Linked DNA regions of Homo sapiens. The protein of the gene in region 2 interacts with the protein of the main gene of each other region in a biochemical or structural test. Each region holds a gene or a part of one and is shown on either strand. Other genes may lie near its edges.

Evidence for each region. The genes of interacting proteins can lie anywhere in the genome.
Region 1: the proteins of BCL2 (region 2) and BAD form a complex in vitro, tested with the Homo sapiens proteins (5 studies listed by BioGRID and IntAct, with this or other methods).

Annotation. Positions count from the first base shown.
Region 1 is NC_000011.10:64,270,950-64,274,695, forward strand, and holds part of BAD (bcl2-associated agonist of cell death), read right to left. Parts: intron 855-3,746; coding exon 664-854; intron 1-663. UniProt on the Homo sapiens protein: Promotes cell death. Successfully competes for the binding to Bcl-X(L), Bcl-2 and Bcl-W, thereby affecting the level of heterodimerization of these proteins with BAX. Can reverse the death repressor activity of Bcl-X(L), but not that of Bcl-2.
Region 2 is NC_000018.10:63,318,331-63,322,076, forward strand, and holds the start of BCL2 (apoptosis regulator Bcl-2), read right to left. Parts: upstream 1,440-3,746; 5' UTR 844-1,439; exon of another isoform or gene 623-843; 5' UTR 337-622; coding exon 1-336. UniProt on the Homo sapiens protein: Suppresses apoptosis in a variety of cell systems including factor-dependent lymphohematopoietic and neural cells. Regulates cell death by controlling the mitochondrial membrane permeability. Appears to function in a feedback loop system with caspases.

The DNA of each region.
Region 1 (3,746 bases), on a different chromosome or scaffold from region 2:
GACTACAGATCCCAGCATGCCCTGTGACACACACACACACACACACACACACACACACACACACGCCTGGAGTGGGATCTAGACTACAGATCCCAGCATGCCCTGTGACTGACACACACACACACACACACACACACACCTGGAGTGGGATCTAGACTACAGATCCCAGCATGCCCTGTGACTCTCTCACACACACACACACACACACACACACCTGGAGTGGGATCTAGACTACAGATCCCAGCATGCCCTGTGACTCACACACACACACACACACACACACACACACACACACACACGCCTGGAGTGGGATCTAGACTACAGATCCCAGCATGCCCTGTGACTCTCACACACACACACACACACACACACACACACACACACACGCCTGGAGTGGGATCTAGACTACAGATCCCAGCATGCCCTGTGACTCACACACACACACACACACACACACCAGGCGGGGGAAGAGCTGGGGAGTGGGGGCGGGGAAGTCTTGTGACTACAAATCCCAGAATGCTCTGGAGCTAGGAAGGAACAGGACGGCTTTGGGGAGGGGTCGTGGGACTCCAGATCCGGGCGTGCCTTGGGACAAGGCAGGGACAGACCGGCGGGGGGCGGCCTGGTACTTCAGGTCCTGGCACGCTGGGGACTGGCGCTCACCTTAAAGGAGTCCACAAACTCGTCACTCATCCTCCGGAGCTCGCGGCCATAGCGCTGTGCTGCCCAGAGGTTGGGGGGCGCCGAGCGCGAGCGGCCCCGAAAGGGGCTGGGCTCCTCCCCCATCCCTTCGTCGTCCTCCGTCCCCGCGGGGTAGGAGCTGTGGCGACTCCGGATCTCCACAGCCCCAGCGCCTGCAGAGGGTCAGTGGGTAGGGGGGCGACGTTAATCTCAGCTCCTCTAAGCCCCTGGCCCTGCCTGAACCCTCCCCATCAGCTCTGCAGGCCCACTCGTGGGTCTTCCAGGGGCGCATCACAGCCCACCTCTCAGAGCCCCAGTCCCTTGTATGTGAATCGAGGGGAAGCTCAGGGGCCTTTGGTGAAGATTTAGGTTAACTTCTCATTAATCCCACGAATCCTTACCGAGTGCCAATAATGGGTGAGGCCCTGTGCCTAGCACAAAATAAGGGCATAAGAAATACTAGTTACATCACAAGGTCAGGAGATCGAGACCATCCTGGCCAACATGGTGAAACCCTGTCTCTACTCAAAACACAAAAATTAGCTGGGCATAGTGGCACGTGCCTATAGTCCCAGTTACTCGGGAGGCTGAGGCAGAAGAATCGTTTGAACCCAGGAGGGAGAGGTCGCAGTGAGCCGAGATCACGCCACTGCACTCCAGCCTGGGCGACAGGCTTTTTTTCTCAAAAGAAAAAAAAAAAAAGCAAGAAGTATTATTAGTGCAAGACCTTCATGGGGCCTCCTGGCAACCCCTGGGTTGGTAGCTATTTCATAGTGTCTGTTCTACATCGGAGGAAGCCAATCCCTTGGATAGGAAAGTGTCCTGCCACAGCCGGCAGGATTGAATGCCTCCTCTGCAAGGGACCTGCAGAGCCCCTGGAGAACAAGAACTTGGCCGCTACATGTCCGCATCCCCCACAGAGCCTTCTCTGGAGACAGTGTCTGGAACTGTTGACGTTTTTAGGTACCATTGATGGTGCACTTACGTGTAGGCCGAGACATTCCCTTATTATCCTCCTAACCACCCTGGGAGGTGAGTACCAAACATGCTTAGGTGAGAAGACAGAAGCTTAGAGAGTTAAGACTTGCCCAGTTTCTGTGAAGCTGTGGAGGCCTGAGGCTGGAAGGTTCCAAAGGTTTGGTGGAATCCAGAGTCCAGTGATGATCAGCGGAGCTCTGTGTCTCTCCCCTTGTCTAGCCAGCCTTCGACTCTCTTAGCCTGTGTCCTCACCTTTATGAGGGGATAATCCTAGCCCTGACTCCCAGTGGCTGTGTGAACATCACATAAAATTAAAAAATGTGAAAGTGCTTTGTGGCTGGGCGTGATTCCTCACGCCTGTAATCCCAGCACTTTGGGAGGCTGAGGCAGGTGGATTGCTTGAGTTCAGGAGTTCGAGACCAGCCTAGGCAACATTGCAAAACCCCATCTCTATTAATTTAAAAAATTAATAAAAGAAGGCCAGACGTGGTGGCTCACGCCAGTAATCCCAGCACTTTGGGAGGCCAAGGCAGGTGGATCACCTGAGGTCAGAAGTTCGAGACCAGCCTGGCCTCAAACTCTGGTGAAACTCCGTCTCTACTAAAAATACAAAAATTAGTTAGGTGTGGTGGTTCACGCCTGTAGTCCCAGCCACTCAGGAGGCTGAAGCAGGAGAACTGCTTTAACCCAGTGGGTGGAGGTTGCAGTGAGCCGAGATTGTGCCACTGCACTCCAGCCTGGGTGGCAGAGCGAGACTCTGTCTCAAATAATAATAATAATAACAAAAGAAAAAAGAAAGTGCTTTGTAGGCTGCAAGTGCACTATGGGTTATTATTCAGAGGCCCGCCTACTATGGTCTATTTGAACTGTGCTCTGTGCCATCTCCCAACTCCTGCCAACTCCACTCCTCTACCCAGACCGATAAAGACTTAGAACCACTCCCCTGAGCAAACACTCAGAGTGCAATGACAGAGTGAGAAGCAGGTGGGGGGCTGGGCGCAGTGGCTCACGCCTGTAATCCCAGCACTTTGGGAGGCCGAGGTTGGGGAGATCACGAGGTCAGGAGTTTAAGACCAGACTGACCAAGATGGTAAAACCCCGTCTCTACTAAAAATACAAAAAAATTAGCCAGGCGCGGTGGCAGGCACCTGTAATCCCAGCTACTCGGGAGGCTGAAGCAGAAGAATCGCTTGAACCTGGGCAGCAGAGGTTACAGTGAGCCAAGATCACGCCACTGCACCCATCTCAAAAAAAAAAAAAAAAAAAAAAAAAGAGAGGCAGGTAGGGAAACATGCTGGGTGTTTATGGCAAGATATGTCTGTCAGGGAGGCTCTTTGGAGGAGGTAAATTACAGGCCAGGAACTGAAGGCGGGGGATAACCATTGGAATGTCTCTTCTCCCCTCAGAGGACCTGAGGACCTGGCCTGTGGGCCAGTGCAGGGCCTCCAGGGGTCCCAGCTAGGACACATAAATGAGACACATGACTAAGAAAGCAAGTAGGTGGCCGGGTGCGGTGGCTTACGCCTTTAATCCCAACACTTTGGGAGGCCGAGGCAGGCGCATCACGAGGTCAGGAGATCGAGACCATCCTAACACGGTGAAACCCCATCTGTACTAAAAGTACAAAAAATTAGCTGGGCATGGTGGCTGGCGCCTTAGTTCCAGCTACTCGGGAGGGTGAGGCAGGACAATGGCGTGAACCCGGGAGGCGGAGCTTGCAGTGAGCTGAGATCACGCCACTGCACTCCAGCCTGGGTGACAGAGTGAAACTCTACCTCGAGAAAAAAAAAAAAAGCAAGTAGGCGCAGTGGCTCACGCCAGTAATCCCAACACTTTGGGAGGCCAAGGCAGGTGGATCACTTGAGGCCAGGAGTTCGAGATCAGCCTGACCCAACATGGCAAAAACCCATCTCTACTAAAAATACAAAAAAAGGCCAGGTGTGGTGGCTCACGCCTGTAATCCCAGCACTTTGGGAGCCCAAGGCAGGTGGATCACGAGGTCAGGAGTTCGAGACCAGCCTGACCCACATGGTGAAACCCTGTCTCTACTAAAAACACAAAAATTAGCCAGGTGTGGTGGCGCGAGC
Region 2 (3,746 bases):
GAAGTCGCGGCGGTAGCGGCGGGAGAAGTCGTCGCCGGCCTGGCGGAGGGTCAGGTGGACCACAGGTGGCACCGGGCTGAGCGCAGGCCCCGCGGCGGCGCCGGGGGCAGCCGGGGTCTGCAGCGGCGAGGTCCTGGCGACCGGGTCCCGGGATGCGGCTGGATGGGGCGTGTGCCCGGGCTGGGAGGAGAAGATGCCCGGTGCGGGGGCGGCCCCCGGGGGCGCGGCGCCCACATCTCCCGCATCCCACTCGTAGCCCCTCTGCGACAGCTTATAATGGATGTACTTCATCACTATCTCCCGGTTATCGTACCCTGTTCTCCCAGCGTGCGCCATCCTTCCCAGAGGAAAAGCAACGGGGGCCAACGGCACCTCTCGCCCCAGCTCCCACCCCACGGCCCCCAGAGAAAGAAGAGGAGTTATAATCCAGCTATTTTATTGGATGTGCTTTGCATTCTTGGACGAGGGGGTGTCTTCAATCACGCGGAACACTTGATTCTGGTGTTTCCCCCTTGGCATGAGATGCAGGAAATTTTTATTCCAATTCCTTTCGGATCTTTATTTCATGAGGCACGTTATTATTAGTAAGTATTGTTAATATCAGTCTACTTCCTCTGTGATGCTGAAAGGTTAAAGAAAAAACAAACTAATAAGTAAAAAATCAGGTGCGTTTCCCTGTACACACTGAGTGAAAGCAGGGCATACACACTACAAGTAACACGGCTAAAAAGAATGTATTAAGCTGCCTGGAAATTAAATTTACTCGAATGCACTTTAAGTAAAAAATCTCAAAGGTTTCCATTGAAAGTTACATTAAACCAATTTCCTGTGCAGAGAACTTACTTGTATTTTTTAAGTACAGCATGATCCTCTGTCAAGTTTCCTTTTTGTAAAACCAAAACAAATGCATAAGGCAACGATCCCATCAATCTTCAGCACTCTCCAGTTATAGCTGATTTGAAACTTCCCAATGAATCAGGAGTCGCGGGGAGAGGGAGTAAAAATTAGGAGGATTTCCAGATCGATTCCCAGACTTCTGCTTCACAGAAATGTCAATCCGCAGGAATCCCAACCGGAGATCTCAAGAGCTCGAGAAAAAAAAAAGGCAGCGGCGGCGGCAGATGAATTACAATTTTCAGTCCGGTATTCGCAGAAGTCCTGTGATGTTTTCCCCTTCTCGGCAATTTACACGCGCGCACACACGCGCGGGCACAGGCATGAATCTCTATCCACGGGACCGCTTCACGCCTCCCCAGGAGAGAGACAGGGGAGAGGGGACGATGAAGGAGCCGGGGACGGAGGCAGGAATCCTCTTCTGATTAAACTCCGAACAGCAAATGCATTTTCCGAAAAGCTGCTGGATAAATGAAGGCAGGACGCGCCTGGCCCGCCGGTGCCGAGCGCTAGAAGCCCGCGCTGTGTGTGGTGCGGCGAGGGGTGGGGAGAAGGAGGTGGTGGGGGAGGGTTTTATTTTTTCCCTCTTTTCCTAAAAAGGATGACTGCTACGAAGTTCTCCCCCCTGGACCCCCTCTTCCGCTGCACCCCACCGGCGCACCCCGCCTCCGGGCTGCGCACCCTTTCTCCTCCTCCTGGTCCTGCGCGGCGGCGCTGGCTACGGCCGCCTCCCGGAGCTCCCGCCGCGCAGCCCGCTCCGAGCGCTGACGGCCGCCGGCAGGGAGGGCCCGGAGCCCCGGCACCTTCGCTGGCAGCGGCGGCGGCGGCAGCGCGGCGGGGCCACGGAGAGCGGCGGGCGGGAGCGCGGCGGGCGGGCGGGCAGGCGGCGCGGAGGGGCGGGCGCGGGAGGAAGGGGGCGGGAGCGGGGCTGTGGTGCCTGTCCTCTTACTTCATTCTCTGCACAGCCCGACCGGTTTCCTGTGCGTAACGTCACACGGTTCATTCAAAAAAAGAAGAAAGAAAGAGCCCTCCTCTGAGCCACCCGACCGCCCCCTCCGCCCCGCTCCCTGGCCCGGGTTAAAGGCGCCGCGGCAGGCCCGGGAGTGGCGCGTCCCGCCGGGGGCACATGGCGCGCGGGGCCGCGGCCGGGGAGGGCGCGTCCGGGCCGGCCACCCGCCCGCTCCGCTGCGCCCGCGGGGCCCGGCCAGTGGGTGGCGCGGGCGGCACAGGCCTCCCGCGCGGCCGCGGCGCGGTGGGTGTGCGCGGGGCCTTCTGCTCAGGCCTGCGGCAGGCCGCGTGCGGACTTGGTGGTCGCTGGGGTCCGCGACGGGGTGGGGGCTCCCGGGGAACCGCACGCGGCCGGGCCGGGCGGACGACGGAGTGCGGAGGGGGGCGGCTGGCGGGAGGGTGCGCCATGAAAACAAGGGCTGGAAAAGCGCCGGGAACCGCCTGGACCCTTTCTGGCCGTGTGAGTGTGTGTGGAGTGTGTGTGTGTGTGTGTGTGTGTGTGTGTGTCTCGCCTGGACCTTTTCTAGCCGTGTATGTGGGAGTGTGTGTGTCGCCTGGACCCTTTCTAGCCGTGTATGAGAGTGTGTACACGCGCCTACACACACACACGTTGTGTTACCGGCGCTCGGCCGCCGGGGGAAGACCCAGGCCAATGCCGCCCCCCACCGCCCCCAGCAGTGGGACCTCAGCGCTGCCCTGCTGTGAAGACAGGTGACTCTGCACGTTTTAAGCAATGTCTAGGGACGCCCCGAGCGTGGTGTTTACTTTCAAGTAGCTTCCTAGGTGTCCGCGCACTACACACGCACGCGCATCCCCGCCCGTGTCCACCTGAACACCTAGTCCGTGGCCCAGGCCATGCAGAACTCAGCGCTCCAGGGAAGGGGTTTATCAAGGGCTTTACGACAGTTTAAGTCAATGTTTTCCCTCTGTCCCTAACACCTTTTACACTGGTTTAGTGCTACACGATGAGGACTTCCATATAGTAACTTTCAGGCCCACCGTCCTAACGCTGGGGTGGGTGGGCTCCTAAAGGTCTCCACCTTTGCCTCGTAGCCAATCCTAGTTGGCCGCACTTTCTCAAATGAGGTACATAGATACACACATACACATTCACACTCGCAGACGTGTGTACGCGCAAGCAGACAGTTTTAAATTAATCAGCATGAATAGCCCCTAGCAAAAAAGGACAAGAGGACAAACAAGTTGCACGTGTGTATTTTTATCTCCAAGAGTCTTTGACAAAGCACCAAGAAAAGAAAAAGGTCTTCTAGAAGCACAGCGGCTTACTTAATAGGGCTCGAGTGCAAATATATAGGGACACTGGATTATTGGGGTCAAGAAAGATGACAAATGAGTACTACAATGTGTACAAATATGCTATGACTTTTTTTTTTTTTTTGAGACAGAGTCTTGCTCTGTTGTATCTTGGAGGCTGGTGTGCAGTGGTGCGATCTCAGCTCACTGCAACCTCTGCCTCCCAGGCTCAAGCAATTCTGCCTCAGCCTCCTGAGTAGCTGGGATTACACGTGCACGCCACTACGCTCTGCTAATTTTTGTATTTTTAGTAGAGACGGGGTTTCGCCATACTGGCCAGGCTGGTCTCGAACTCCTGACCTCGTTATCCGCCTGCCTCAGCCTCCCAAAGTGCTGGGATTACAGACATGAGCCACTGTGCCCTGCCTGACATCTTTATTTTGTCTCATTCCTACTCTAAAATCAAAACATTCTTTAAAAAGCCAGAAAAGCACACCAAATTATGATTTTTTTAATTTTTACTTAGTTGGCCTTTTTTTTTTTTTTTTAAGAGATGGCTTTTGCTATGTTGCCCAGGCTGGACTCGAACT